Linked DNA regions of Homo sapiens: all the other regions are linked to region 2. Evidence: fine-mapped expression QTL. A gene starts in region 2. Each other region holds a variant in brackets. All regions are shown on one strand. Distances are from middle to middle.

Evidence for each region. PIP is the estimated chance that this variant, and not a neighbour inherited with it, causes the effect. A credible set is the group of variants that fine-mapping cannot tell apart.
Region 1: its variant is the best candidate, but not a certain one, in a credible set for the expression of CHDH in whole blood (TOPMed, PIP 0.88).
Region 3: its variant is the best candidate, but not a certain one, in a credible set for the expression of CHDH in putamen (GTEx, PIP 0.83).
Region 4: its variant is the best candidate, but not a certain one, in a credible set for the expression of CHDH in nucleus accumbens (GTEx, PIP 0.78).

Annotation. Positions count from the first base shown.
Region 1 is chr3:53,753,776-53,761,489 of GRCh38, reverse strand. All of the region lies in intron 29 of CACNA1D (calcium voltage-gated channel subunit alpha1 D), which reads right to left. Among named protein-coding and RNA genes, the nearest start is that of CHDH, 89 kb to the left of the region's middle. RefSeq lists enhancers at 7,279-7,378, 7,469-7,714, 7,503-7,714. The variant C/T (reference allele first, on the strand shown) is at 3,758.
Region 2 is chr3:53,841,206-53,848,669 of GRCh38, reverse strand. It overlaps CHDH (choline dehydrogenase), which reads left to right and starts at 2,251. Exons shown (of 9, transcript NM_018397.5): 1 at 2,251-2,587. It overlaps IL17RB (interleukin 17 receptor B), which reads right to left and starts at 2,102. Exons shown (of 11, transcript NM_018725.4): 1 at 2,022-2,102; 2 at 1-6. The coding sequence starts at 2,081. RefSeq lists enhancers at 2,054-2,348, 2,295-3,135, 3,136-3,976 and a silencer at 2,054-2,703.
Region 3 is chr3:53,797,247-53,804,960 of GRCh38, reverse strand. CACNA1D (calcium voltage-gated channel subunit alpha1 D) reads right to left here. Exons shown (of 48, transcript NM_001128840.3): 41 at 4,596-4,712; 42 at 3,536-3,903; 43 at 2,788-2,814; 44 at 1,389-1,538. Among named protein-coding and RNA genes, the nearest start is that of CHDH, 45 kb to the left of the region's middle. RefSeq lists an enhancer at 1-469. The variant C/G (reference allele first, on the strand shown) is at 3,203.
Region 4 is chr3:53,820,603-53,828,316 of GRCh38, reverse strand. CHDH (choline dehydrogenase) reads left to right here. Exons shown (of 9, transcript NM_018397.5): 3 at 4,250-5,011; 4 at 5,675-5,826; 5 at 6,541-6,670; 6 at 7,709-7,714. The coding sequence starts at 4,309. Among named protein-coding and RNA genes, the nearest start is that of CHDH, 22 kb to the left of the region's middle. RefSeq lists an enhancer at 4,421-5,020. The variant A/C (reference allele first, on the strand shown) is at 4,427.

The DNA of each region.
Region 1 (7,714 bases), 87 kb after region 2:
TGCCTTGTGGCAGGATGACTGAGACAAGTCCCTGTCTTCAAAGAACTCTCAGTGTAGACGACACAGACGGGTAGATAATGGCTTACGGGGACACAGGCACCGTGAGGCACAGCGTCGTGGCAGAGACACTGGCTCCTTGTCATGGGGGTGGTGCTTAGTGTGGGGAAGTCAAGGCAGGCTCTATAGTAGAAAAGAGTATGGAATGAAGAGGATGTTCCAGGGCTCCCTCTGTCCTTCAAAGAAGCCAATAGGCTCCTTCTTCCATCTCAGCTTTTGCTTTCTTTCCCTCCCACTTTTCACCCTCTAGGCTGAGAGGAGTCCTTCCCATCCTTCGAAAATAGCACCAGGTTCCTCCCCACCTCCTGATGTCTCTGCAATCCTAATTGCCTAACCCCAACTCCATCTGTTCAACTTCACCCTTCTTCAAGGTCAGATAAATGTTCCCTGATGGAACCTTCGCAGTCCCGGCTGTCTGCACTCCCTCAGGCTGACGCTGAATCTCTTACGTACTGATGGCTGAATGTGGGGTCTTTGTCTGCAGCTCTACCAATCAAAAGCCCTGAAGGATGATGACTGTGCTGCATATTCAGTCCCCCAACTTCCCTAACCCCATTATCTAGCCAGAGCCTTGAACCCAGTCAGTGCTTGACATGGGCAATGTCCCCTTTGTCCACCAACTTGCACCCTGCCTGTCATCCAGCTTTGTCTGGTTGTTTGTTCAGGTCCTGCTATCTTGCAACAATTTTGAGGGTACAACATCCCCACAATTGTAACTTAAAATCTATATGTATGTGCCGGACATTTTACATCTTCTTCCAGCATCAGCACAGCAGGTGCTAAATGAGTGCCTGTGGTCTCTCGACACCCCTGGGAAGCTCCCGGTTGGAGAGGGTGGTGGGGAGATACTGCACAGACAGCCAAAGAGGCAACGGACTGACTGTCAAGATCAACAGCTCTGTCTATAAACCAACTGTGTTTTTCCAAAGAGTCTGGACGCTTTTTGGAAATGAAAATTCAGGTACATATTATATAAAATGGGGCCCAGCCTGTTTACAACGGGGTACATTTAGTGCTGCATTAAGAAAACCAGAACAAAAAGTACTTTGAGGTGTCAGGTCCCAGAAACTTGTGATCAAACACAGACCCAGAAGAAGCCACTGCAGAACCACAGCCTTTTGCGACAGTATAGAAGATGTGGACGTACTGACTGTCCTAACAGCTGGAGTAGGGATGTTTATTCTAGTCACCATCCATCAGTCTAGGTGCATTTATGGGGGAGCTACGACACTGACTTCGGGTTTGCTTCTTAAATTTAATCTTAATAATGTAAGATTCCCCCACCCAACCGCCGTGGTTTCTAACCAACTCTCCACCTCTCTCCCCGCCCTATGATCACAGTGCCTCTCTCCCATTTTACCCTCACTGACTGCTACCCTCCCTGGCCCATCTATCAGCAGACAAAAGGAATTTGTGAGCCCCAAATCTGATGATCTATGTATAAAAGTCTAATGGGAAGGGCTATTTTAAAAACAGCACAGCTTATGCTTTCTAGCTTTCCTTTGCATGAATTCATGATTCTTGGCTGGCAAAACTGAGCAGAGATGGGCTGCCTTTGAGGTCTAGACTAGCAGTCAGAGGTGAGATCAAGAGCTAGCCTCAGGTTGTAAGGGAACACAGCAGTTTCCTTCGTCCAAGAAGTCTCCTAACAAGAAAGCCAGCTGAATCAATGTGCTTAGTGTTAGAGCTGACAGCTCTTGTTGCGAATGGATAACAAGCAGTTCTCTGACTGGTGGCAGTGCCACAGACCACACTTGGAGGGGCAGAGCCTGCCCTTTTCTTCATGGAGTTAAGAGTAACTCAAAAGCTAAAGAAAGCACAGTGATCCTTCCCCTCCCCTCTAGGAAGGAATTTACACCTTGATCAAAAACTTGGTCACAAGTAGCAACTAGACCTCCAGAGTACTGACAAGGCGGAGGAGACCCAGCGTTCGCCCTTCGCACCTGCTGTGGTGCGTGCCCCAGCCCCGCCTGCATTTGTACCGTGTGCGCCGCTTCTCTCCATTATTTATGTCATTTCCCAAAGGCCAAACCCACCACATGGGTGCTGGAGGCCAGCCTCTGACTTTGAGATTTTATTCCTGAACAGCTCCTCTCTCCCTCTCTCCAGAATTATCAGTGTTCTCCCCTTCAGGCCATTTCCATCAGCCTATAAGATATTCTCAATGCTGGTGCACTGTGATGGATAAAATCCGTTTAAATCAACACAATAGGGGCTTAATATTTCCTTGGGGTCTTGGAATTTTTTGGCAATTTCATTGACTCTCTCTCCAGAAACCCCTCACACTCATAAAACTGTGCCCAAATTGGAATGATTGATGGACTGAAGGTTGACACCCTTAATCTAGGAAGCAGAAGGCAGGTGGCTGAAATCACAGGCTCTGACCAGGTGGCTCTGACAGGAGTCCAGGGGAGGGAGAAAATGTCAGCCCTCCCATTCTTCCCACATACTGTTTCCCTATTTAGTAGCCTCTTGTTTAATAAAATCACCGTCAAGTGGCATGACTCAGTTCCCCCACCCTTCTCCCACCAAAGGCACCATATTGCCTTTGTAACCAGAAGATAAGATACAAGAAATGACACGGCTCCTAACAGAGGGCCCCTCTCCCTGCTCTCTCCTCTTGGCCTATGATGATGTGTTCTCCTACAACTGAATTCTGAGGCCAGAACCTCTCAAGTGGAACCAGCAGTCAAATCTATATTATTTTTGTGTCCAGCTCTACCTGTCTGAAAAGACCAAACAAGTCAGCCACATGCAATATGTATTGCGCAGAAACATTTCTGACTCTGGAAATTTAAAATCATAAACCAGACTAATGTGGGCCTCAGGGTCAGGAAGCACCACTATGTCTAAGAACCCTATTGTCACCATCCATCAATGTTTGTCTCCTGCTGGACAGTGGGCTCCTGGAAGGCACATCTCTTATTCCTGGCCCTCTTGCCAGGATATGGCACAGGCGTTGCACATGGTAAGGGGGCAATGTTTGTGGAACGGTTGCAAATGGGAAACAAGAAAAGTGACCCAAGTTCAGATTCCTTTTGCTGCCTGGATTCACTCCCATCTGCAGATCGGTAGAAGCCTATATAAATAATGTGCCTTTTGTCATTGATCATGGCAGCCAGATCTCTTACCCATGCTGGCAGGGATTATTTGGGTAGCATTTGACCCAAGTGATAACCCAAAGTGCCAACTTTTGGTAGAAACTATGCCTGACAGCTTTCTAACTAGCAAAAGCCTTTCCAAAGGTAAGCGGGGAATTAAGGGAAGATGTGCTCCACTCTGCTCTACCCAGATACCCTGCGACAGAAAAGCAGGTATCGTCTCATGCCCAGAGGCTGCACTTCCAGGATCATCCCTTTATTCCTTTCTTCATTCCACCAATCTTACTGAGCTACCACCAGGAAGCTACCACCAGGCATCATGTGAGGTACCACAGAGCCAGAAGCAGAAGACTCAGCCTGAGACCTCAAGCAGCTGCTCACCAACAAACAGAGAGGCAGACATGGAGTAGTGTTGGTAACGATGGTGCATAGTAGGCCCCCAACGGATGCATGAGCAGAGGACAGGGCTGGCTCTGGCTGGGGTGAGGATGCTGTCTCAGAGAAGATAACATTTCCCACAGGCCTTCAAGGATAACAAAGAGGAAGCAGGGTATCTAGACAGAGGCGCATGGGCAGGGAAAGGTCTAGCATGCCAACAC[C/T]TGGGGATGGGGTGGGGACGAAGAAATAGCAGGGAGGGAATGGCAGGAAATGAGGCAGAAATATACAGGGGCCAGTGCTTCATGGAGGACTTTGAATATTCGACTAAGAAAATTGTATATGCTTTCTCAAGCAATAGGTGGCCAGTGCCAAAATATCACTGCAAGAGTGGTCTGGTCAGCTTTGGGCTTACAAAGGGAGTAGGTAGAAGGGCTGAGGCCAGAGGCAGGGAGATCATTTTGAAGGCAGGGAGGCATAGAAGCTCAGGAGAGAGAAGGGCAGTGCAGGTCTGCATGCCACAGAGGCGGCCACTGACGCTCTGGCATGTATGCATCTTACCAGGCAAGAAGGGGACCAGGAGAGGGCTCTGGGAAACCTCAATGTCAAAAGGACAGGATGGAGCCCAACAAGAAGCCCAATGTAAAGTTCTAAGGACAGTAATACTTGGTTTCAAGTATTATTTGCCATTAAAAGTAAATCTAGAACAGATGGGGTCATGAAGAACTGAAAAAAAAACAGTGTCAAATTTTCTCTCCAGCAGGTGGAAAAGGTACTCTAGGAAGATCATGAAGAAGCTCTACTCTTGCAAGGGACCCTGGAGCAGCGAACAGAGCCCTTGAAGGCAGATGAGGACTCAGTGCCCATTCTGCATCAGCTCTGCACAGCAGCATGAGGACAGCACCAAAACACTTTCTTCTTTCCCCAAACCTAATTTCTCCTTACTTTTTCCAGCCCAAGTAGCTAGGAGTATAAATTAGTATATTTTCAGGGTAGAATCAAGATCAAAACACTTTAAAGGACTAAGATGGGAACGAAGTATGGCTCACTGGAGAAGGCCAGTAACCGCAGCAAACAACATGGCCTAGAATGCAGCCTGGACAAAACGCCAGATGGGTAACATCCCACAAAGAGAATCCCAGACAGACCAGGCTCTTCTTACTCCACAGAAGTGCTCTCTATACCTGCTGCAGCCAGCACTTTGAAAAAGGCCCTTCTTAATCAATCTTCCTCCTTGGAGCAAGAGAACTTGTTGGAGAATTCTAGCAGCTGGAGGGAAAGGCTTGGAGAATGGGGCTTGTGTCACCTAAACTAGGGCCTGCTTTTGAAAACCCTACAGAGGTCTAGTTGACCCCAAGTTGAAAGCAGGACCTAGGCTGCACCAGGTCAACACCCAGCTGGTGAACTTTCCCTTCGGGAACCCACAATCGGCTAAATCACCTGCTTGCTTTTCCCGGATGCTTTTGCGCTTCGGCTCCTAACTACCTTCCACTCTTGCCTGACCAGTGCTCCAAAATGCCTCCTCCCCTGAGGTGAGATGGCCTCTTCCATCATGGAGGCTTCCAGCTCGGAGTTTTCTCCCTCTGTCTACTTCCCACCTCCCTCTGGGTTGGCAGAGGCTGGGTCATCTCATCTCCCATGACCTTGGGCCATTTCCCTCTAAATATACTCTCTTAGGAGGCCCAGTTTCTCCATCAAGCTCCCTTACATAAAATAAGTCCTTAAGGTCAGATTTCTCAACTTTCTTTAACCGTTCCCTCTTGAAATGCCTTCTCACCTACCAGTAAGAATTTTGTCTTACCTCACTTTCTATACTTATTTTATGAAGCAACTGAAACTCTGCCAGCCTGTGTCCCCTAACAGAGATACTGACGAGTCCTGCTAGAAGGTGTACCTGACTCAGTGGAGAACTCTGCCATGAGGGACCCTTTTACAAAGCTCCTCCCATGAGACAAAGGCTCTCCTGAGAGGAGGCTGAGGTCCCATGTGGCCATCTCCTCAGAATATTCCTCCTTCTGCAGCCTTGACAACCTTGTTCTTCAGCCCGACTACCCCACCGACCAGGAGGGAGGAGGCCTCCCTGGCTTCTTTGTGAAAGACCACTTGCTCGGGCTGGGCTTGTGAACACCAAAGAGAAGAGCAAGAAAAAAAGGGCAGGAAAAATTTTAAGGAGGGCATTGCTTCTTGGTGAACCGATACTCTCCCACTCATCCCGGCACACGATATAAACTCAACCTCCCCTGGCCGGGGGGAACGCAGTGACAGTGCTCTTCAAGTGTGGAGATGCTGCTGCTACTGTCTTAAAAGTTCTCCCAATTGTAACGTGAGGTTGTCTAATGCTATGAAGATATCTTGCTGAGTGAAACTACAAGCAGTACAATTTCCAGCAAAAATCAACCATTTAAAAACTCCGATCTATCAGTACTGATTATAGCTTAGCTACTCACTTCCCTTTGGTATCGCCTATCTGTTCACGCGCTACTGAACTCTCCTCCCAGGTTTGGAGATCTTCTGGGCAACTGTCAGCCTACTGGGCAGTGCACTACTGGGCTGTCAATGCACTGGCCGGCTGAAGGGAGCAAGCACACACATGAACACACACGCATGTGCACACACACACACTGACACACACACATACACACCATGGGTGAGTGTGCTTTCTCTTCAGCCTAGAGCAAGCTTTCAAAAACTTCAGAGCTTAATCATCTGGCAAGGGAAGACATGGCCCAGGTATCTGGGAAATGTTCCACAGAGAGGTTCCATGTTGCATTTCTCAAGTACCTTCGATGTTCTTACTTTGCAACCTTTTCCATCAGTCCAGACAAATATTGTTCAAAGAAGTAAAGGTGAGAGGGAAGCAAACCAAAATCTCAAAGGAAATTAAGATGAATTTGGAAAAGGAGGAAATGTTTATGTATGTAGATATGGACAAGTCACAGTAGATAATAACATCTGGCCATGCATTAGGTGCCAAATTTGACCCCACTGCAATCACCCCAATTAATCACTTACAAATGTCCTTTCTTTTTGGTCCACAAAGATCTGATAAAGATTGCATAGAGATTAATTCAAATTAAAGAAAGGAACAGTTTGGAATTAGAATTTCATGTAACTATGGAGTATGTGAAACCATCCATTTCATAATCCATGCCTAACTTAATTAAATCAGTGTCGTCAGATACCTTACACAGAGATAACTAACTGGGTCACTGAACTCTGTCATCTCTAACTCTGAGAGTTTTTGGCTGTACTGGGAAAGAAAATGAGGGCCAAATATCCCACATTTCAGCTTGGTGTGGCTCTTCTGTCTAGGCTTTTAGAATGAGGGAACATCCTTGCTTGATGATGATGAGGGTGGTGGTGCGGGTAGGAACAGCAGTGGCCGACAGTCCGCAGCGTGGCGCTACATGCCAGGCACTCTGTTAAGCAGTGCGTATATGGGAACTCTTTACTCCTCATGACAACCCCATGAAACAGCACTATTAGCGTCCTCATTTTATGGGTGAGGAAGTCGAGGCGCAGGGAAGAAAGGAACTTGTTTCAGCTGTAAGTGCCAGAGTAGAGATTTGAATCCAGTCCAGTTCCACAACTATGCAATTTGACACTGAACTACACTGCCCCTCATCTGGCAGCCACTGACAAGTGGGGAACTGAATTCACTCCCTCCCAAAGGGGTACAACACGCTGAGTCGTCGAGCACAGTTGAACACATTTCATGTCTCATTTTGTGTTAAAGTCAAGTGAAATTTTTCTAAATTAAGCAAACAAAAGATGGTATGGCTGTGAGAGGTCTGCAGCTGGTATCAGCACTTCCCTTAAAGGGTAAAAAGGATGCTGCAGACCAAGAACAAACAAAACAAAGTCTTTAGACTAGATATCTGAAAGTATAATCAGGGTCAAATTCTTTCTGATGGGTTATGTTCAAACATTTTCTCTAGTGCTCAAGTAATGAGGCAGGTTTCCCTGACACAGCATGATATGTACTATTCTAGAAACAGAAAACTGGCTTTCAAAATAATCTGCAGTTTACAAATTCCCAATTCTAATCTCCCTGCTTCTGTTTCTCAGAATTGTTTTCATGAGGTTTTGTTCTTGCAGATTCATTTTCCCATATATACACACATGCTCTAATCAGATTTTAATGTTCTCAGGTGGTAACCCAGTTAGCGGCCAGAACACTT
Region 2 (7,464 bases):
AACGGTCTGTGGGAGAGAAAAAACCAAGCGTCACGTTGAAGCCGGCAAACCACAAGCTTTCCTTTGCCAAATTAGGCAGAACACCATTTTCCCCTTAAATGCATATACAAGTGACAAACTTTCAAAGAAAAGATGAACTGGTTCTGCTTCACAGCTTAGGGGGGAACTAAGCTGTCCCACTGTAGGCTATGACGGACCATGGATTAGCCATCAGTATACCTGATCCTCAAGCCAGTGCATAACCTCACTTGAAGACCACAGGTGGGTCTCCATCTGTCTCTGGATGTCATCCTTCCCTGCTGCAAGCAGGGGATGACTTGGGACCGATGTGAGGCCCCTTCACACTCTAATGTTTAACTCTAGGTTTTTAGGACGGCCTAGAGTATTTACTGGGCTACCCCAGGTTAAGGAGTAGCTATGCTAAGGAGATAAACAAAAGAAAGCTCTGAATGCAGTCCATGGTACTTTCCTCAGGTTCTTTAAAATGTTCCCCTTCTAACACAAAAGGACTCACTGAGCAATTCACGAAACCATAAGCAATTATTAGTGTTCAAGAAAGGCTGGTACTAAATCGTTTGAAGTTAGCTGCTCGTGTTTTTTCATAAGAAAAAATAATTTGTGCTTTGGTTCTGGAATAAAATACTGAACCTAAAATATTGGGGCTTTAGGCAGCAGCAAGCTCAAATGACAAGACTCAATGTGATACGTCCAGCAGCTCTGGAATATGCTGCTGAGCATCCACATTTCCAAACACCTTCTAAGATCTCCTTTTGATGGTTTGAATGATTTGAGTTTGGGCAAAATTGTCAATCATTTATTTGTCTTTTAAAAAATGAACTCTAAGGGATATCATCAGATTTTTTTTTCCTTTTTCTGAGACAGAGTCTCACTTTGTCACCCAGGCTGGAGTACAGTGGCGCAGATCTCGGCTCACTGCAACCTCTGGCTCCCGGGTTCAAGTGATTCTCCTGCCTCAGCCTCCGGAGTAGCTGGGATTACAGGCGCCTGCCACCATGCCCGGCTACTTTTTGTATTTTTAGTAGAGACGGGGTTTCACCATGTTAGCCAGGCTGTTCCCAAACTCCTGACCTCAGGCAATCCGGCCGCCTCAGCCTCCCAAAGTGCTGGGATTACAGGCGTGAGCCACCGAGCCCGGCCAGACTTGACTTTTTTTTTTTTTTTTTAACAAATGAGCCATCATACCAGGAGCTGAGTTCTTATCAAACGGCCGGTGAGAGGCCAAGCAACAACCCTAAATGCTACCAAGCTCAAATTGTTGGCCTTGCAGCAACTACAGCAAAAGGGATGAATTCTTCCCTTTAGTGCAAAGAGCCAAGAGGGCTTCTGAACTGACACAGAGGGGAAGGATAGGAGCTGAAGACATCAGGAAACAGTGAATGGGGTTTGTCCACCAGCAGGTGACTACGGAGCTTGATGCTATATGCTATTCTAAGAGGGCAGCGGTATCATTTCAAAGGTTATTTGGGGGATGAGCTATTTTCTCTTCAGTGACCCAGAAGATTCCCTCGATCATTCAGGGTACTGGGGAAGAAAGGCAACTGCCTTCACGAGTGAACATGGCAATCAATATGGCCAAAAAGGGAGGGGGTACTAATGGAGAAACAGTTCTTGTGCCCCAACAGGTGAGCAGACCCCAAGTAACAATAACTACGTGCCAGGCCCTTCGCCGCTAATTGCAGGCCATGTCGTTATACCTTAAGAGACCCTGGTGGGTTCGGTACTGCCCTTCGTTTTACCGTTCGGGACTTGGAACTTGGTGAGCATAAATGACAGAACCAACAGTACAGGGTGGCATCTGAGACCGGGTCTGTCTGATTCCCACGCCCCTGACTCAAGCAACCTGACGCCGATGTCCGGGGCTGCCCTGAGGGTGCAGGCATGCCCCTTGAGCCGGCAGTCCGCGCACGCCTTCGGGGCAGCCTGGACTGGCGGATCAGACGACGTCAGGATCTGGGCTCGAGGGCCGGGAGATGAGGGAAGAGGTGCTGGCGGGGGCTTACCGGCTCTCGGGGTACGGCGCTCCTGCACAGCGCGGCCAGGCTTAGCAGCACGAGCGACATCGCCGGGCCACTGCGCGGGATCCAGGCCACCCGCACGCTGCGCTTTTATCCCGGCGCCGCCGGGCCGCCCCTTCTCGGCTCCGCCTCTCGCAGCGCCGACCCATTCCCGCCACCCGAACAGAGGGCGGGCCCGCTGGCCCCCTCCCAGGCTGGGGCAGGTCGCAGCGCCCTCGCCTGCTGGGGCTCGGAGGGATGGGCCGTGTCCGAGCGCTGGCGGAGCACGGGCCGCCGCGGCGCGCGCCTACCCCCGCGCACACGTGCATGCAGTGAGCCAGGTGCATCAGCTGCACCCGCCCTCGGGCTTCGCGCGCCTCCGCTGGAGCCCAGCTAGCCTCGCGGCTCCGGGGCCGACCGGGTCGGAACTGCTGCGTCCCCATTCCGGACGCAGAGAGCGCGCGGGGCGCCGGCGCCGCCGGTTAAAGTGCCGCGGGGCAGGGGCCGGGCCGCGGCCACCCGCTCCTCCCGCTCCGGTCCCGACTGTCGGGCTCTCGGCCGAGTCGCCCCGGGTGAGTAGCCGCGGAGGCGCCCCGACCACCCCGCAGCAGCGCCGCCCGGCCGCTAGCCCGGAGAGGCCTGGGGGCCGGAGGTTTGGGGCCGGGCTGGACGCCGAGACCCGGGCCCGCTTTACACAATCGCCCCGCCGCGCGAAGCGAAACGGGTGGAACGCAGACTGCCGAAGCTCACTGACTCCTTTGAGGGAGCGAATTCTTTCAGCTACGCGGGGTTAGAGCGGTAGGAGTGCCCGCTGCCCGACCCCAGGCTTTCTGGTAAATGTCTGTTTCCACCAAGTGAGTTCGGACAGCAACACCTGGGGCTCCCAAAGCGGAAGCCGTCAGCACTGGCGATTTGGAGCTGCGGTTCTCAAGTTTCCCTGGCCCGGGATCTCTAGCGCCGCCTAAAATGAGATCCAGACGGCAGGTCCGGGTCAGGCCCGGGATCTGCATTTAACGAGCCTCCACCCACGCCCCCGTAATTCGTGGGTGGGTGGCCCAGGGACCATCCTTTGAGACACAGTGGGTTTGGGGGAAAGTTCACAAAAATCAGCTGGGCTAACAGTGGAGTCACAGAGGCTGGAACTGCTGCTTCAGCCCCCTCGGTTTGCAAACGACAGGGTTGTGGTGACCAACTCAGGGCCATTTAAACTTGTAGGCAGAATTAGCTCCATTCTACAGATGAGAAGACGGAGGCCTAGAGAGGGGTATGGAACTTAGGGGTGTGTTGTCAGCTGGTGAGAGGCTGTACTAAGTCAAGCAGCTGTTTTAGCTGAGGCCCTACTTGTGTGCCAGGCCTGGCCCACCTGCCAGCTTGATTAAGGCTTGCATGGACTGGGGATCAGCCAGGGGTTTGGGCTCTGGCATGCATACGTGTGGAGTTGCAGGTAGCATTTTCAGAGAATTGCTCTGTTTCCTGACCAAGGAACTCAGTTGAGGTTGTGGCCGCACCCCTGCCTGGGACTGGGCCACCCTGAGCCCCTCATTCCACCTCTCTGAGTTGCTTTGGGCCCTGTGGCCCTTGAGAACATTTTCAGCTCTAATAGTCATCTTCCTGTTCAGCAAATACCTGCTGGGTGCAAAGGTGAACCACACATGGGTGCTGGCTGATGGGTACTCCTGGAGTGAGGATGAGTGCAGTGAGAATTATTTTCAAGGACACAAGTACCCGCCTTGCTGCGGAAGCCCAGATGAAAACAGCCTCGTCTGCAAGCTCAAGATTGTGAACTTTGTCCCATGGTGCTGAGGAACAATGGTACAGGCTTAAATGGTCATCCATTTTTGGTTTTAGAAAGGCCACCTGGTTGGCTCTGCAGGGCAAAATAGAGGGCTAGTCCCTCTGAGACGAGCGAGCAGGCAGCCATTCACTAACATGCGTTCATTCCGTGAGTATCTGATTCTGTGCTGTGGGCCAGGCTCTGGGCTGTGCTGGCTTTTCAGTTGTGTGCCAGGGCAGGCCCTGCTGTGAGCTTGGTGTTGTTCGGCACACAGGCTTTGAGACAACCAGGGTGCGGAGGTTAGGCCTGGAGACAGGGTTCATGAGTCAGACTTTCTCAGGGGGCAGTGGAGAGGAGAGGAGGATAGAGCCCTGGGGAGGAGAGCTTGCCTGAGGAGGTGGGGAGGTCTAAGGGGCTGCAGCAGGAAAGCCCAGTAGTGAGGGAGGAGCTCATGGGGTCAGATGGGGCAGAGAGACCAAGGGCACTGAGGCTGGTTGGTGGCAGTCACAGGAAGCCTTGGCAAAAGGATAGGGGAGGGGGTTTTGTAAAAAGAGAAGGGCTGAGGTTCTTTCTCCCCCCAGGGGAAGAAGTGTCAGGTGAGGGTGGTCTGGAGGTGGCTGAGCTGTAAGAAGGAGGAGTACTCAGGCAGGGGCTGCCAGGCAGAGACCCAAGACCCAGGCCAAGTGGCTTTCCTGCTGTTCTGGGTTCAGAATGACACTGCCCTGGCCCCCTGGGGCTTAGGGATGGGGTGATACCTGGTTCAGTTTCGTAGTTGGGGCTGTGGAGTGGAGGAGAGGGTGTGAAGGGCCCTGTAGCCACAACTGGAGGTTGAGGTGGGCAAACAGGTGTGTCTGCCTGTCCCCTCGGGGGTTTTCCCCCCTAGCTCAGAAGGCCATGCCTCAAGTGGCCCTGCATGAGAGGTCCCAGGTGGCCTGCCGGAAGGCACACAATTTATTTGGCTGCCTAAGCCTGATGACTTTGTGGCTTTTTGAACTGGAGGCTCTGGCAAGTCACTGCTCTTCTCAGAGCAGTTTCCTTTTCTGTAAAATGGGGTGGTGATAGGGGCGATGAAGTGATTTGAGTCTATGAGAGAAGCGACCTTTGGACATTTTCTGACCTTCTCCCTTCAGTCATAAATTCTGCTAGGTCTGGGTTTCTGAAAGAGCTACCAGCCAGTGTGCCTTCCTGTCCGGGGGGGCTTTGTAGGGGGTGCTCATTAAATGCTTGAATGGATGAATAAATTAACACCTACCTTCATCCAAGGCCAGTGCCTGAGCCTGCCCACCCAGGGGAGCTGGTTTGAACTTCCTCCTCTTTCTTCACAAGCAGAGCAAAGGTCAGGGCCTCTGCCAGAGCCTGGAAGATCACTGGGTCAAGTACCTATGGCCCTGACCCAGACCCTAGGGTCTGCACAGACTCTGTGCAGCCACAGCGCGGTGAGATGCCTGGCTTCCAGACCACCTGGTTCTGCGGCTCATTCACCATCTGTTGGCCTTGAGTGAGGCTCTTAGTCTTTTGGAACCTGTTTCTCCATCTGTAACATGGGGCTGACATCAGTTCTGCCTCCCCAGCAGGGCTGTTAGGAAACGCAGAAGAAACAGCAAAACAGCAGATAGGAAAGCAAGTTGAAGGATTTAAGAGTGCTGTGTAAATTTAGGGGCAGGAGAGGCAGAACCAAAAAAAAAAAAAAAAGGTGGGGGGGGAAATTCCCTAGGACCCAAGAGTCACGGTAATCCCCAGATTCTGTCATTGTTATTCCGACCTTTGCTTCTTTGCCTGATCCATCCCTGGGAGAACAAGGCCATCAGGGTTGTTGACAAGTCCTGCGGGTCCAGCCTCCACCCACACAGGTGGAATTTTCCAGTTCGTTCTTTTGCAAATATTAATCAAGGCCCTGGCTGGTCAACAGTGGATTCATTGTCTCGTGAAGAGTGAGCCGTTTCTGGCACATACTGGCTGTCTCCCAGGGCCCCTGGTGGTGAGCCGGAGCTGGGAGAGGAACTGTTGGGAGCACTCCTGGCCTCGGTGCTCCCTCAACCCCATGTTCTGCTCCAGCTGGTTAAGCTTGGCAGGGTCAATTTTAATGCCTGCTTTGAGGGAAAGACCCTGAAGCCACACTGAGGGCTTGCACCCCACTGTTCCCAGCAGGGCTACAAAACACATTTTCTCTGCTCTAGTAGGAGGGGCTGGCCCAGGAAAGCCCGCAGACTCAGGCTAGGTGTTAACTCAGCGTTAATCCCACTCCTCCTGGTTCCTAGGAGAAACCCCTTGAGGTCACATACATGTGTTCTGTTCATGGCTGTGGTCCCTGTGCCTTGTCTCCTGGGTACTTGCATTGATTTTTACATTGTTGTTATCACACTGGGGTCTCAAAGAAAGCCTCGGATGCAGAGGAGACAGGTACTGTTGTCGTTCTCTCAAAGCTCCATCTGTAAACAGGGGTGATGAAGTTAGCCTCATAGGGCTGCAGGGAGGATCACCCTGTCACCCTACGTTGGGCCGTATGTTGGGCACATGCAACAGGATCGGTGGTATATTTTTTGATCCATGATACTTGAATTTATTTGTTATTAATAATATATGGGTCGTAGATGTAGCATCACATTCCACACTTTATGGAGGAAGAAACAAGATGAGTGAGGCTATGTAAGAAGAGGGAGGATGAAACTCAGGCCAGCTGTGAACTTGATAAAATCACTATGTGGTTTGGTTTTAGCTTTGCGCTTTTCTTTTTTTCTTTTTTCTTTTTTTTTTTTGAGACAGAGTGTTGTCCTGTTGCCAAGGCTGGAGTGCAGTGGTGCAATCCGCTCACTGGGCTCAAGCAACCCTCTGAAGTAGCTGGGACTACAGGTGCACACCACCATGCCTGACTAATTTTTTCTTTCTTTTTTTATTGTTTAGAAATGGGGTCTTGCTATGTTACTGAGGCTGATATTGAACTTCTGGCCTCAAGCAATCCTCCTGCCTTGGCCTCCCAAAGTGCTGGGATTACAGGCGTGAGCCACTGCGCCCAGCCTGTGAGTTTATTTTATAACTTTATATTTGTGATTTGTGTGTGTGTGTGTATCATAGTTAGAACAGCGATACCATTTTCAGGAGCACACTAGAAACCTAGGGCCATGGGTGCAGGTTGATGTCTTACACTAGTCCCAGCTCCTGATTAATTTCAGTACTTTAGTGATAGAGTGATTTCCAGTTGATACAAAGAAGCAGTCAGTTTTTCAAACACTCACCTTGCAATCTTAGGACCCTCTGCGGTTAAACCCACCCAGAAGTCTGAAGAGGAAACAGCAGTGGGCATGTGTGTGAAAATTGGCTGGCTAACCTTGGCTGGCCAAGGTGCTTTGACCAGCAGGGGCACCCAGCACACAACCTGGACCTTGCAGTGAGCTGTGAAGCTGCCACTGCACTCCAGCCTGGGTGACAGAGGTGTCTGCTGGAAGTGGCTCTGCTTGTACTGGTGTGGAAGTGTGCCAATGAGCGCAGAAAATCAAACAGGCTTTGCAGCGCCTGTGATGTGTTTATAGGAAGTACTGGAGTCGGCGCAGCAGACAGTGGGAAGGGAAGATTTGTCCTGGCATCTGTGGCCAACCTCCTAAGCTGGTGGATTTGGGGTCTGCAGGGGTTCCATGTCTGGTCCATAACAGTGCTTCTCAAGCTCTCCATGGTGAAAGA
Region 3 (7,714 bases), 44 kb after region 2:
GTAAGGTTCTAGGTAACAAGCTCTGTCACTCAACCCTGCCAGACTGACATCCATACTCCTCTCCCCGCCTCCTCCCTTGGACACAGTAGGATTGGCTGAGAACAAGGCTGGCCTCAGTTTCATGGAAGATTCCAGATGGAGACCAAGGGCCATTACAGGACTGGAGGCCTGTGCTGAGGGATGTGCTGGCAGTTTTGATCCCTCAGCTCCAGGGCAAATGTGGATCGCAGATGTCCTGTGAGCCAGGCTCTCACCCACTCATTTCCTCCGTGAGAGCCCCTCTCCTGAGTGCCTTCCCTCTGCCAGGTGCTGGGCACCAAGGACACCAAGATGCATGAAGCATGAGCCCCACCCTCAATGGGCTTAGAAAATGCCATGAGCACACAGAAATCAAATGCGAGCTGGAAAGGGCCAGTGCTGGAAGAGAGGAACTCATGCGGTTCGTGAGGTTTTCTTTTCTGGGGGTTGGGGGAGGGATTTCAATTCCAGTCATGGAAATAAAAAGCAAGGCCCTAGAGCAGGCCCTCGACAGGGGGGATGAGGCCAGCAGACGGAGTGAGGGCATCCAAGCAGGGGCCACAGTGTGAGCAAAAGCCCTAGAGAAGGGAACACGAGTTCATCTGGCTCAGAGTCAGTGGTTTCAGAAGTCAGGCATTTGAGAGAGGCACGGGGAAGGGCTGCGGGAGCAGAGGGTGAGGGTCAGGCTGTGGCTCAGATGCCAGAAGCCACCTCACTGCCATTCCACTTCCACTTCACTGGGCCCCTGGTCACAGTGAGGTGCGGTTCAGAGAAGAGGGTGGAGGGCGATTTTCATCCGCCTGTGCCGCCTGCTACGCCTCCTAAAGCAGAGTGCCCATTGTACTAACAAACATTCTTTCTGTAGGACAGAAGCAAGATGGACCCCTCTGCTGAGTGACCCCTCATTTCTTCATCTCCCCGAGAGACCCCTTGAAGTGGCAGGAGGCAGGTGCTGTGCATGAGGACCTGGCCCAGCTCCAGGCTGGCCAAGCCGCCGTCCACACAGAGCCCTGGGGCCGCCAGAGCTCCAAGTGTTAATTCAGCAAAAACTGATCTCTCCAAAGACGGGTGGTGGAAAGGCATTAACCCAGCCACGAAGCAGGCCCATCTCCCATTTCCCAAGCCTTCACTAAAAGGCCTCAGAGGCCCCTAGTGGAAATAAGGCAACAGGTCTGAAAGAATAGCCCTCACCCTGCCTCTCTGCGGCTCTCTTTCTCCAGCTCCACTCTCCCTCTGGCCTGGAGTTTCTGCTCCCATTTTGCTTTTTAGGGGAAGCCCAAGTGCAGCTGCCGGTGGCCCTGGCTTCCGGAGTGGGCCGAGCACCAGGGCAGGGCGGCCTCCCGCTCTCCACAGGAGCCAGAGCAGCTCACCTGCTCCAGGTGGGCGAGCTGTCATCCTCGTAGCATTCCTCACTACTGAAATACTCCTGCTCCCCCAAGCAGTGGGGGTCCCTGAAATAGCCATGTATCTCTGGGTCTTCCCGGCAAATAGTTGGGAGCTGTTCATCTCCTGAGTCGGACCTGCAGTTGGGAGAGAGGATCTGAGAACCTGGGCAGGCGGCAGATAATTCCTGCTGCAGCTGCACCTCTGCCTGTGGCCGGCAACCCTGCCCGGGTGCTCCTGGCTTCTCCCAGCGCGCACCTGCCTCAGGCAGCACTGGACTGTTCCGGCTTCTGGCAACAGCACCGTGTGTGTGTCTGTGTGTGTGGTGTGCCTGCGGGCCAGGATAGGGTCTCTCTCAGTGCCCTGCACAATGTTGGTGTCAAACCATTGTGTCCAGAGGCCTTGGAGCCAAAGGAATAGGTGCAATTTGGAGAACAGAACAAAAAAATGGACCTAGGGAAAAAGACCCTGGGTTCCCAGGGCATCTGCTCTGATCCCTCCCTCTCCTTCTAGTCCCCCAGCTCCAGCCCAGTGTGACTTCAGAACCTGGAACAAAGGAGCTTCCTGGCCACTGACCTCCTGCTGTATCAAATCAGGAAGGTCGAGTGAGTTCTGGATACAGTGCCACAGGGGAAACTGTCACAGAACATGTCCACCATGTTTCCAAAGGCTGCCCTGCCCCAGGAATGTGGTAAGTCTCCCTGAAACCCGGCTCATCCTGGCCTCAGTCCTCAGAGAAGGACGTGGTGATGTCAATCCTCTCTCCAAAGGAAGGATGGCACTTCCTCTGACTTCTCCACTTTCTTGCACCCAACTTGGGCCCACATGGCTCCCGACTTCACTTCATAACATGACACAGGAAGACCCATCCTCCCTTGGCCCCCAACAAAATGGGCATTCCGCCCACAATTCAACTCAGGTCAATACATGTGGAGTGGAATATACTACACATATCTTGAGGGCTACAGGGAAAATGACAAGATCCCATTCCTGACCTTCAGGAGGTTTGGGTCATGCTGCAAAGCACCCACAAGAAGCTTGACCCCAGAGAGCAGCCGGAGCTGCCAGCCACACAGGCTGAGGCCCCTGTAAATGCACAATGGATGCTCCTAGTGCCATCGCGAGGCCTGCAGGAGCCAGCCCATGGGGTGCACCTTGTGTGTGGACACCAGTCCTTGGATGGCAACAGAGTCGACAGAGATATGGATCTGAAGGTGCCTTTGCTTAGAAGCAACAACCTCTGACCTCTGAGTCCACAGCCATGAATTATGATAACCTTTAATAGGCTGGCTCAAAGAAGTGTTTCTCATTCTTCAGCACTCAGAGAGGCCAGCTGGTAACATACCATCACAGTATTTAACACAAAAACAGGTAATGAGCACATACCTAATGTAAGTTTCATAATAGCGGGTTCTATCCAGGAAAGGCATAACATGGGAAGGAGGGAGAAGATAAAAGTTAATTTCCAACCAAATTTACAATGCAAACATCAGGCTACCTCCTAGAGTAGGGGTTAGCAAATTATGATTCGCCATCCACATAGGGGCTGCCACCTGGCCTTGTATGACCCATGGGCTATGAACGGGTTTTATTGTTATAAAGGATTGAAAAACATAAAAAAGAATCTGAAGACAAAAAATATCTCATCATATGCAAATATATGAAGTTCAAATTTCAGTGACCATAGGGAAATTTTAATGGGCACAGCCACACACCCATTCACTTACATATTTCACACTGCAACGGCAGAGCTGAGAAGGTGCAAGACTGTATGGTTCTCAAAGCCTAAAATATTGACTCA[C/G]TGACCCTTTAGAGAAACAATTCACCAACCCCTGTCGCACAGTATGTGAGCACAATTGAGAGGTGGATTTTGTGGCTGCTGCTGTTTTAAGGTCCCTCGGCACCCCACACAGGATGTAGGATGGCACGTGGCCCTTATCCTTTAGGTCCATCACGTGGAGAGTGTCAGAGGCAGCAGTGACCTGGGGGGCACTCACAGATCCTGACACAAATGCCTACGGGGAACCTCCTCCATGCCCCAGAGCACAGAGCACAGACCCGCCTTGCTCCTTGGGACTAGACGCAACACGGGCAGACACCACATGAGCAAGTCCAAACACATTGTCAAGGTTACCTTTTCACACTGGACCTTCTCTGAGGCTCCCGGTCATGCTTGTGGGAAGAATGATGCCCATTTTCAGACACATGCTCAAGGTTCCCAATGCTGGGCCGCTTTCCATGGGCAGCTTTGGACATATTGGCATTATTGAGATTGGCATTTGTTGAGGTGGGAACTTGCTTTCCTATGGAATTATGGTTATGATGGTTATGACACACCGAATTTCCTGCTGGAGGAAACAGCGGTTTCTCAGTATCACTTGCAGGTGGAATTGAAGGCCTTTGGACATGCAGGGGACGGTGGGTGGTATTGGTCTGCTGAAGGGAATCTCTCCTATCACTATTAACATGATTGACATGGTTTCCAAGCAGGGCACCATTTCTCTGCAAAATAATGGGAGACAACACCAGGTAATTTAACAAGTATTTGATGCAGACTAGCTATGTTAGGTAACTTTTTCTACATGAAAAACAAATTCTAGGCAAGCTCCGTAGGATCCCTGTAAAACAATCTGAGTGTCTCAATGATCAGGGTGAATGTGACTGTGTGGCAGTTGGTCCCCCCGAGATGAGGAAGGTTACCGATTTCCTGAGCTGGGGAGCAAGCTGTCGGCTGTCACTCGAGTGTGCTCTTCCAGTTGCTCCAAGTTGGGGTGACTTATACCCAGCTGGGCTGGCTGGTGGCCCCAAGGTTGGGCATGCTCTCTGGGCTGGGGGACTGACAGCCAGCTGGCAGATCAAAGAGCTGGCCCGGGAAGGAGGAGGGTAGCAAAGGCAGCTGCCGGAAGGACTCAGGATGCTCATCCACAGGGCCAGCGGCTGTGGCCGAGCTCCTCAGAAGCAGGCAGTGAGGGGAAGCTGGGTAAGCTCAGGGAAAGAGCTGGCCTGGCCCTAGAAGAGGTGCTGATGCCTGGGGAGGGTCTGTAAGAGGGGGAGGGTGTGGTCTGAAAGCCCCTCTAGGCCCTGGGGATGGGCTGCATTCTCCAGACTCTTCTGTGGATGATTAACTGCCCAAACTGGAGTCCTGCCCTGCTATTTCCAGATGGCCAGTGTGTAGCTAGGCGTGGAATAATTACTTTGAACACATCATCTTCTTCTTCTCGTTTTGTTTCCTCAGGCTCGTCATCTTGCAAATCACACGATATAGCACGCCGGATTTCTGGCCCAATGTCATGCAGTGTCCTTAATCCCGCCTAGATCAATGAAAATGGCAGAACAGGTTAGACCACACATGGGCCCTGGGGCCAGCCTGGGTCCTGGCTTTGCTCCTTCCTGATTCAGCGGTGGGGAGGAAGGCTTCCCCAAAAGCCAATCCAGGGCACTGACTGATGTCACTGAAGGCAGTCTAAGGGTTGTTGGTATGGTCAGGCATCCAGAGGGTCAAGAAGGTCCTAGGTAGGATGCCTGAGGCCTGCAACCCCGTAACCTCCTTTGCAAAACCCCCACTTCCAAGGAACACTGCCTGGTTACTAGTGCTAGGATCTGCCAGGCCAAGAGCTTATGCCCCTGTCTCAGTGACAGTCTTCAGTAGGCTCGCCTACAAGAGCCCTATCTCTCCAAGCCCAGAGCAGGGCAAGGAGCACAGCCTGGCCGATCTAAAGGGAGGCTGATGTGGACTCCCTTGCTGCATCTAGGATGAGGAAGCCTAGGTGTAGGTGCCAGAGGCACAAGCAGACCAAGCAGTCCTCAGGCCACTGGTTCTGCTAAAAAGCCATGGAACGAGTGAGTGACACAACACACTGCAACCACCAGCACACTCGGACCACGACGGAGCAGACTGACACGCACACCGACCCGGCCACCGTGGTCATCAGGATACCCTGGCCTGTAGCCTGTGTGCAGGCTGAGAACTCACCAACAGGGGGTCCGCTTTTTGAAGATCACAACAAACTGAAAGTGGCTTATCAGCCTTTGCAGGCAGTGCAAGACCCACCAGAAGACACCCCTGGTAGATCCCTCTGGGCCCGTCACAGATACTCTGCATCTCCCCTGGCGCCCTCACAGCTGCCTTCCTCACTGTGGTCCCTGCTATGTTGAGACAGGGCCCAGGATAAGCCCTTCCATTGTTCATGACTTCATTAGGGAAGCATTCCAAGATGCTTATGCATGGTGCATGGAGGAAGGTACTGCTCCAGCTCTGAGAGAATGATGATGTTTTGACCACCAGTTTGAAGGAAAACAGTATGCTGAGTTAAAGACTAATAGGGACTGTATGGCAACTTTATTCTTTTCCACAGAAAGTCCTGCATCTGAAGAAGGCATGTCCTCTCTGCCCTGGGTCTACGGTCCTGTATCCAGGCAGCCCCTCCTCACTCACTGGCAGTCTGTCCACAGCTCTGTAGCCCTAAAGGCCTGGAGAACAGCTAAGACAATGGATGTGCAGCAAATGCTTCAACCTCAGGGTGGTTTGCAAAGGAAAACTGGACTAAGTGGTGGGTCCTCGGAGAGGAGACCGCTTCCCTGTCCTTCCTCCACAACACCTCTTAGCATGTGGGCAGCTGTGGCAAGGACAGATAGGCATGATGACCATCCCTGAGACAAGCATGGGGTAGAACAGATGCCCAGAAGTGGTTCAGGGAGGAGGAGGGGATGGTGGCTGCAGTCTGGCCAGATCCATCAGGGCTGGGTCCCACTGGTCTGGGGATGCTCAAAACTGGTCTCCTGCAGTTGCCAATGCCAGTGCTGGTGATGATAATTTAGAATGTAAAGTCACACAGGAACTTCCCAAGAGGCCCTTATAAAAATAGCCTGGTGCACAAAAGCACCAAGCCTTTGAGACAATTCTGCTAAAAATGGTGCCAGGTTGGGTTTGGTTTGAACCATTCTGTGAAGATAGAGCAGCAGATCTTTCCATTTAGTGAATTCTGAAGGTGAAGGAAGAGCTGGGAATGAAAGCTTTAAGCTTCCTGACTAGGAATGCTGAGATCTTATAGGGGACAGACAGTCATGTCCCGGGTCAAACCAAGACAGTTCTTGGGGTGGTCAGGGAGGCTGCTTCTTGCTCTCCTGTCCCTCTGATCACAGGCTCAGGATGCATGTGTGTACACATATGCACATGTGGGTATGCTTGTGCATACACGTGCGTGCACGTGCACACACACACGCACACACACGCACACACACACACACACACGCACACATACACACACTTTCCCTCTCTCAGGATCCACGAGTTCAGCACATCTGAGCCTGGGAAGTCATTTGGTTCTGAGGTGGACCCACCTGCCATTCTCATGGAAACATCAAGAAGGCAACTGTAATGCTATGTTGGTAAAAGCTCTTACACAGCACAGCTGCAGGAACGTGAAGAAAGGTCATACCCGGCAGTACTAAACAGCCGCATTTCATTCATTCAGAGCTTCCTAGGGTACATCATCAAGGGATGGTGAGCTAAGCAAGGGGTTCACTTCTGATTTTGGATCAACTGGGAAGAAAACTCGGTTACATATCTAAGGCTCCCAAACAAAAAGACAAGGTTTAAGACACCTGCTGCTGCTTCCACAAAATAAACATAGGTTATAATGCACTTAAGTCAACACCCCCAAGTAAATTTGGTACATTAATCCATATTACAAGGCAGTAAAGGCCAGAAATGCTCCCAAGTTTAAACAACATATAATCCTATTTACTGTCATTCAACTGATTGGACTAGGTCTGATTAAAAGAAATAGAAAACTATTTATTTGGATAATTTTTAACATCATCCTCTGTTGACGGGTTGACATTTCACTGAAATACACATATAACATAATTGCATAATAGAAACAAAAACTGTCTCCAGCACATCTTCAGTGATACACAAGATTAGGATTTAGTCGACAAGATAGTGCAATGAACAGACATGGGACAGAGAATTTGTTTGCAACATAAATCATGGAGAAGGTTGAAAGGTGGCCCAAGTTGCCACTTCCAAAGACAAATAATGACAACATATTTATTAAAGAGACATTAGAGGAGGAGAGAAGAATCGCTCTTCCCAGACACAGAAGCAGAGAGTCAGAAATCATGATTATATTCTGCTTGTTCCAGGCAGGAAAAAACAGACCTCATAAGAGTCAGGGACTGACTCTACTTTTTCACATGTGTTCTGGGTAGGGCCAGGTCAGGCTGTCCCCCACGACTGGGAGTGAGGGAAACAGATGTTCCCAAACTAGAATTGACATGAAGCTTAAGCACAGCACCCTGAATTTATTAC
Region 4 (7,714 bases), 20 kb after region 2:
TTCTTTCTCCTGTGTTATCTTCTAGGAGTTTTATAGTTTTATATTTTACATTTAGGTCTGTGATCCATTTTGAGTTAATTTTTGTGCAGGGTATAAGGTCTTTGTCTATATTTACTCTGTGTGTGTGTGTGTGTGTGTGTGTGTGTGTGTGTGTCTAGTTATTCCAGCTCCCTTTGTTGAAAAGACTTTCTTGCTCTATTGTGCTGCCTTTGATGACTTGTCAAAGATCAGTTGGCTACATTTATATGGGTCTATTTCTGGGCTCTCTGTTCTGTTCCATTGATCTATTCACCAATATGACACTGTTTTGATTACTGTAGCTTTATAGTAAATCTTGAAGTTGGTTAGTGTCAGTCCTCCAATTTTGCGCTTCACTTTCAGTATTTTGTTGGCCATTCTGTGTCTTTTGCCTCTCCATATATACTTTGAACCAGTCTGTTAATATCTACAAAATAACTTGCTGTGGTTTTGACTGGGACTGCATTGAATTTGTAGATGAAGTTGAGAAGAACTGACATCTTGACAATATTGAGCCTTCCAATTTGCGAACATGAAATATCTCTCCATTTATTTAGTTTTTAAATTTCATCAGGGTTTCATAGTTTTCCTCATATAGATCTTGCACATATTTTGTTAGATTTATACCTAAGTATTTCTTTGTGATGCTTATTTATTTATTTAGGGGCAGGGTCTTGCTGTCACTTAGGCTGAGGTGCAGTAGTCCAGGCTGGAGTGCAGTGGCTCAATCATACCTCTCTGCAGCCTCAAGCTAGGACTACAGGTATGCACCACCACACCCAGTTACTTTATTTTTTACTAGTTATTTTTTTTTAGAGATGGTATATTTAGTCTTTTCTCTCATTGCTATAAAGAACTACCTGAGACTAGGTAATTTATAAGAAAAGAGGTTTAATTGGCTCATGGTTCCACAGGCTTTACAGGAAACATGGCTTGGGAGGCCTCAGGAAACTTACAATCATGGCAGAAGGTGAAGGGGAAGCAGGCATGTCTTACATGGCTGGAGCAGTAGGAAGAGAGAGAGGAGGGGAGGTGCCACACGCTTATAAACAACCAGATCTCATAATTCACTATCATGAGAACAGCAAGAGGGAAGCCTGCCCCTATAATCCAGTCACCTCTTCCAACATTGGTGATTACAATTCGACAAGAGATTTGGGTGGAGGCACAAATCCAAACCATATCAGATGGGGTATTTCTATGTTGCCCAGGCTGGTCTCAAACTCCTGGCCTCAAATGATCCTCTGACCTTAGCCTCCCAAAGTGTTGGGGTTATATGGGCCACTGCACCCAGCCTGGGGTGCTAATTTAAATGATATTGTGTTTTTAATTTCAAATTCCACTTGTTTGTTGCTGGTATATAGGCAAGCAATTGGCTTTTATATATTAACCTTATATCCTGAAACCTTGCTATAATTGCTTATTAGTTCCAGGAATTTTTGTTGATTCTTTTAGATTTTCTATATGGACAATCATGTCATTAGCAAACGAAGTTTCATTTCTTCCTTCCCAATCTGTACCTTTTCCTTTTCTTGTCTTACTGCATTAGATAGGACTTCCAGTACAATACTAAAAAGGAGTGGTTCAAAGGGACATCCTTGCTTCGTTCCTGGTTAGTGAGAAAGCTTTGAATTTTTTACCGTCAGGTATGATGTTAGTTGTAGGGTTTTTGTAGATATTCTTTACCAAGTTGGGGAAGTTTCCTTCTACTCTTGGTTTACTGAGAGTTTCTATCATTTAATGGATGTTAAATTTTGTCAAATGCTTTTTCTGCATCTGTTAATATGATCATGTGAGTTTTCTTTTTCAGCCTGTTGATTATTTTTGAATGTTGAACCAGTCTTGCATACTTGAGATAAAGCCCACTTGGTTGTGGTATATAATTCTTTCTATACATACTTTGATTCAATTTTCTAGTATTTTTGTTGAGTGTTTTTATCTATGTTCATGAAAGATATTGGTCTGTAGTGGTTTTTTTTTTTTATTGTAATGTCTTTGTCTGGTTTTGTTATTAGGGTGATGTTAGCCTCACAGAATGAGTCAGGAAGTAATCGTCTGTTTCTATCTTCTAGAAGAGACTGTAGAGTACTGGTATAATTTCTTCCTTAAATGGTTGATAGAAATCACCAGTGAGCTTAGTCAAGCTTGGTGCTGTTTTGGAAGGTTATCAATTATTGATTCAATTTCTTTAATAGATATAGGCTTATCTGGAGTGTCTTTCTGCTTGTGTGAGTTTTGGCAGCTTGTATCTTTCAAGGAATTAGTCCATTTCATCTAAATTATCATCTAATTTATTTTTAAAGATGTATTCCCTGGGTATAATTTTTCAATTTCAGTAAACTAGGACTAGAGGTTTTTTTTTCTTTCAATATTTAAAGTTGTCACTCCATTATCTTCTGGATTGCATGTTTTCTGAGAATTTTACTGTCATTGTTATATTTATTCCTCTGCATATGTTTTTTGTCTGGCTACAGTGATGATTTTCTCTTTATTTTGAAGTTTCAGCAGCTTAACTATGATGTACTTAGATGTGTTTTTCTTTGTACTAATCCTGCTTGGGATGCTCTAAGCTTCTTGAATCCATAGTGTTTTGTCTTGCACTACGTTTGGGAAAGTCTCAGCAATTATCTCTTCAAATATTTCTCCTCCCTTGTTCTCTGTCTCTTCTTTCCGCCTTGCCCTCCTTCCCCACTATTTCCCCCTCAGACTCCAGTTATCTGTACTTTAGTTTGATATTGTCCCAGAGTTGTTGGTTGTTTTTTCTCTCTTCCCCTCTTTATATTTCCAGATTCTTTTCTGTGCTATATCCAATTAAAAATTGTTCTTCTCTAACATTGTATTTTTTTCTTGCATTTATGTTTTTTTCTATAGTTTTCATTGTTTGGCTGAAGTTTCCTATCTGTCCACCTTTTCAACTATATCTTTTATAATGCTCACCTTGGTTAAAGTCCCTGTTTGATGGGTTCTAACATCTGGGTGCATTACTCCTTGGTCTGTTTCTGTTGACTACTTTATCTCTTGATAAGGAGTCATTATTTGCCTTGCTTTTTGGTATGTATCCTAATTTTTTATTGAATGCTAGACCTTGTGTGTAATGGGATAGTGGAGACTGAGGTAAACAGTATACCTAGCAAAGGACCTGTCTTTCATTCTGTTGGGTTGTTAGTGTGGAGTGTTGTCAGTCTGGTGGGGAGTGGTGTGGGGCCTGGAGCTCTGAAGAGTTCTTCTCAGTGTTCCAGCAGCCTCAGACATACCATTCAGGAGGCCCCGCCACCTCTGTCTCCTATGCCTGTGCAACGGTGGACGGGAGGAGGAGAAAGAGCCTCTGCACTCCAGTGGTAGGCTGCTGTTACTTGGTGCAGGGCTTGTGGAAGGGGTGGTGAGATTTATCAGGGTTTCCTTTTGTTTCAGCCTGTCTTGGGCAGGCCTTGTTGGTCTGAGCCTCACGGGTGGGGTGTTCTCAGGTGTTCTTTTCAATGGAGGTTTTCATGACATATCCTGTTTCTTTTCTACCTCTGTGCACTATGCTGGGATTGATTTGAACATTGTTAGGAAAGGGCCCTTTCAAAGCTATTGCCATTTTTCTGTTAAAACGCTAGCATTCTACAGAGTGATCTTTGAAGAGTGTAGCTCTGATCTTGAACCTGCTTCAAATCCCTCTAGTGCTCCCCATGGCCCCTCGGGTCAAAGGCTTTGAGCTCTACAGTCTCGTGCCTCTCATGCTGATCTTCCTTCAGTTATTTAAGTCTTGTCCTTTTCCCAGGCCCTAAACCATCCGTTTTGAGAGCAGATGTCTTTCTGTGTATTGCTGCAGGAACTGGGTGGGGCAGGGAACAGTGCCTAGCACATGGTAGGGGCTGAGCCCACTGTCTTGAAGGGATGAGTACAAATACTCTGTTTTCTTTCTCCCTTGGAAAGCCCTTTGCCCCCCTGCCTTCCAGCAGGCAGACTCCAGCCCAGTCTCCAGGTTCATACACAGGGCACAGGGAAGCATTTTACCCCTCAGTTGGGGGAGGGGCCTTTCTGCTGCCCCATCCCCTGGCCTGTGCCTGTCCATCCTGGCACATACAAAACAGTTCTGAAATTCCTGTGTGTCCCTCACTTCCTCCTCCTAGTTCCTTTGAGCAGCCACATCAGGCTGGGCCTGCTGCACCCTGTCCCGGCAGGCCGTTGGTGAGCATACCCTGGATATGCGGAGTTAAGATTTTTAAAGCCCCTCTTCCTGTTTTAGGGAGAAGTGAGTCATCTCATTCCCCTCCGTGGATCAGAGGACTTGGACTAGATAGAAGCATGTGGTGTCTCCTACGAGGCCTGGGCCGGCCTGGAGCCCTGGCACGGGGAGCCCTGGGGCAGCAGCAATCCCTGGGTGCCCGGGCCCTGGCCAGCGCAGGCTCTGAGAGCCGGGACG[A/C]GTACAGCTATGTGGTGGTGGGCGCGGGCTCGGCGGGCTGCGTGCTGGCTGGGAGGCTCACGGAGGACCCCGCCGAGCGCGTGCTGCTGCTGGAGGCCGGGCCCAAGGACGTGCTCGCGGGGAGCAAGCGGCTCTCGTGGAAGATCCACATGCCCGCGGCCCTGGTGGCCAACCTGTGCGACGACAGGTACAACTGGTGCTACCACACAGAGGTGCAGCGGGGCCTGGACGGCCGCGTGCTGTACTGGCCACGCGGCCGCGTCTGGGGTGGCTCCTCATCCCTCAATGCCATGGTCTACGTCCGTGGGCACGCCGAGGACTACGAGCGCTGGCAGCGCCAGGGCGCCCGCGGCTGGGACTACGCGCACTGCCTGCCCTACTTCCGCAAGGCGCAGGGCCACGAGCTGGGCGCCAGCCGGTACCGGGGCGCCGATGGCCCGCTGCGGGTGTCCCGGGGCAAGACCAACCACCCGCTGCACTGCGCATTCCTGGAGGCCACGCAGCAGGCCGGCTACCCGCTCACCGAGGACATGAATGGCTTCCAGCAGGAGGGCTTCGGCTGGATGGACATGACCATCCATGAAGGTAGTGGTCTCCCTTCTCTTTTTAAAAAAGCACTACCCCCTACCCCAGCCCCCACCCATCTTGGCCCGTGGCTCCAGGCTCCTGGCTCCAGCATGGTCAGGAGGCATGGGCAGACTGAGGCTGGCACGACCGGGAAGAGATCTGGCTTAGTATACCCCTCCAAGAGTACAACCCGGAGCCCTGAGAGTGACCCAGGATGGTGACCCTGGGCGTTCTCTGCACCTCTGGCCCCTGTTGGTGTGGATAACAGAGAATCAGCTCTCTGGACAGAGAGCCTAACTCCTCTAGGGACTTGCACATGGGGAAACTGAGGCACAGAGTGGTGAAGGGCCTTGCTCACAGCAGGACAGAGGCGAGCCAGGGCTGACCCGGGGCTTCTGCCTGCCTCTTGAAGGCTCTCACCCCTCTGGCTGTGCTCCTGGTCTCTGTGTCCTCCTGTTTGAGGGTGAAGGGTACTTTTCCACCTGCCTCCAGGGGACCCCAGGCAGATGTGGACTCAGTAGGGCAGGGTCTTGCAGGGTCTTTCCGTCTCAGCTTTACTTTGAAGGCGGGACTTGCAGTCAGAGCTGGGCATATCCACTCTTTCTTTCTCCAGCTCCTTCCTCCTGCCCAGGTGCCAGGGGAGGGCGGAGCCATGCCTGACCACCTCACTCCATCCTGCAGGCAAACGGTGGAGCGCGGCCTGTGCCTACCTGCACCCAGCACTGAGCCGCACCAACCTCAAGGCCGAGGCCGAGACGCTTGTGAGCAGGGTGCTATTTGAGGGCACCCGTGCAGTGGGCGTGGAGTATGTCAAGAATGGCCAGAGCCACAGGGTGAGTGGACTGCAGCTGGGGTCCTGGAAGAAGGGGGTGGGCAGTGACCCTGGTGGTCCAGCTCAGAGTGGGCAGGAGTCACGCCCTCACCCCCAGACCCACGTGCTCATCCCTGTGATGGCGGGGGGAGGGGCGAGTAGCTGATGGCAGTGGGCTGGTGGAGGTGAAGAAGCCCCTAGTCCTGCCACCGAGAAAGGGCCTATGGTGTCAGTGCCCCTGTGTGCCATGCCTAATTCAGAGCTCTCCCCCAGTACCTTCCACACCATTTCAAGGCACCGATGTCACAGAAAGCTATAGGTTTAAAGCTATAGGTTTACACTAGAGGTTTTAAAACCCATAAATGTGATTGTACTCTATTTCTGTGTTGTTGGCAGGGGGTCTGATTGTTTTGCAGCTTCATGTGTAGATCTGGTTCACCGCTTGCTCTCTCTAAACCACCCACTTGAATGCCTGCTTTCATTTATCTCGTGTAAGCCCTCCCCTCCTGTTTCTAAGGCTGTCACTACTGTCCAGCTGTAGTTGCACCTGCTGGTTGCTTTCAAGTAGTGACTCAGTGAGTTTCCTCTCCTTAGCTCTGGGGCCTGTCCCGGGTGTGCCACAGGATTCTACATCCCAAGGCTGTGTTCTCATGGTGCTGGCTAGAGTAGGGCGCTGGTCTGTGAGTCAGGAGAACAGCTGGCTTTTCAGGGAGTGACCTGGCTGGACCTCTTCCAGGCTTATGCCAGCAAGGAGGTGATTCTGAGTGGAGGTGCCATCAACTCTCCACAGCTGCTCATGCTCTCTGGCATCGGGAATGCTGATGACCTCAAGAAACTGGGCATCCCTGTGGTGTGCCACCTACCTGGTGAGTCCCCTTCTTTACTGCTCCCCAGAGGCTGTCTCTGCTCAACAAAAGGCTTAGTGTATGTATCTTATTAGCATGAAGTGGGGAGGTGGTGGCAGTCAGTGATCCTTGGAACTATCACATTGTCCCCGAGAGCCCGAAGGTTTCCCAGGCCTCACTGGACACTGTCATCCCTGGGCCCCGAGTCTTGCATTGTTTTCCTTCTCCCTCCTCCGGCTGCCCTATTTCATTTGGAGAAGGGCACCCTGCAGCAGGGAGTATCTGCCCTGAAGCCCCACTGGGTCGGGCATGGGCGTGTCACCAGGGCAGCTCTATGGCGAGAGGGGTCCAGGCCTCGTCCTTCCATCCACAGGACTCGCTGGCTGCCCTGAGCATGAATGAGGTCAGCTCCGTGCTCCAGAGCCTGCTCTTCATGTTAAGATGTAAACTTTGTTTTATAAACTGTCTCTGATGCTCTTGAGGGTCGGGCTCTGTCTCTTGCCCTCCTTGATAACCCCACTCCGGGAGGGCTAGGCCTTTGTGCCTTTAGGCTTCATCATGAGGGGCCCGGGGAAGTGCTGCTTCATGATGTTGACCTGCCCAGTGTCCCAGTAGGCTTGGATGAATTCATGCAAGGACGGTGTAGCACGACAGGGCTGCTTCCTCCTTCCCCACGCTGGCGTGAGGGTGGGGCTGCTGTCTGCCCCTCTGGCCATCACCATCCAGCAACCGCTCACCAAGCAGTGCCTGCTGAAGGCGTAGGCCCTGCCCTCACAGAGGGGGCTGCTGAGCAGGGCTGACAAGGGGCACCCAGAGGCTGCCGTAGGAGTGAGTGACAAGGACAGGTGGCCTTGGCAGCATCCGAGGCAGGCCAGACTTGGCCAGGAGTGCACACATAGTGTCTCTGGGAGGCAGCCTTTAAGCTGAGACCAGGGAACTGAGCAGGAGCTGGTCCAGAAGATAAGGGAATAGGAAAGAATTTTTCAAAACCGGGGGGATATTGAGAAGCAGCTGAGCCCCCTTGGTAGCCATTTTCTAAACCACTCCTTCCCGTATCAGGGGTTG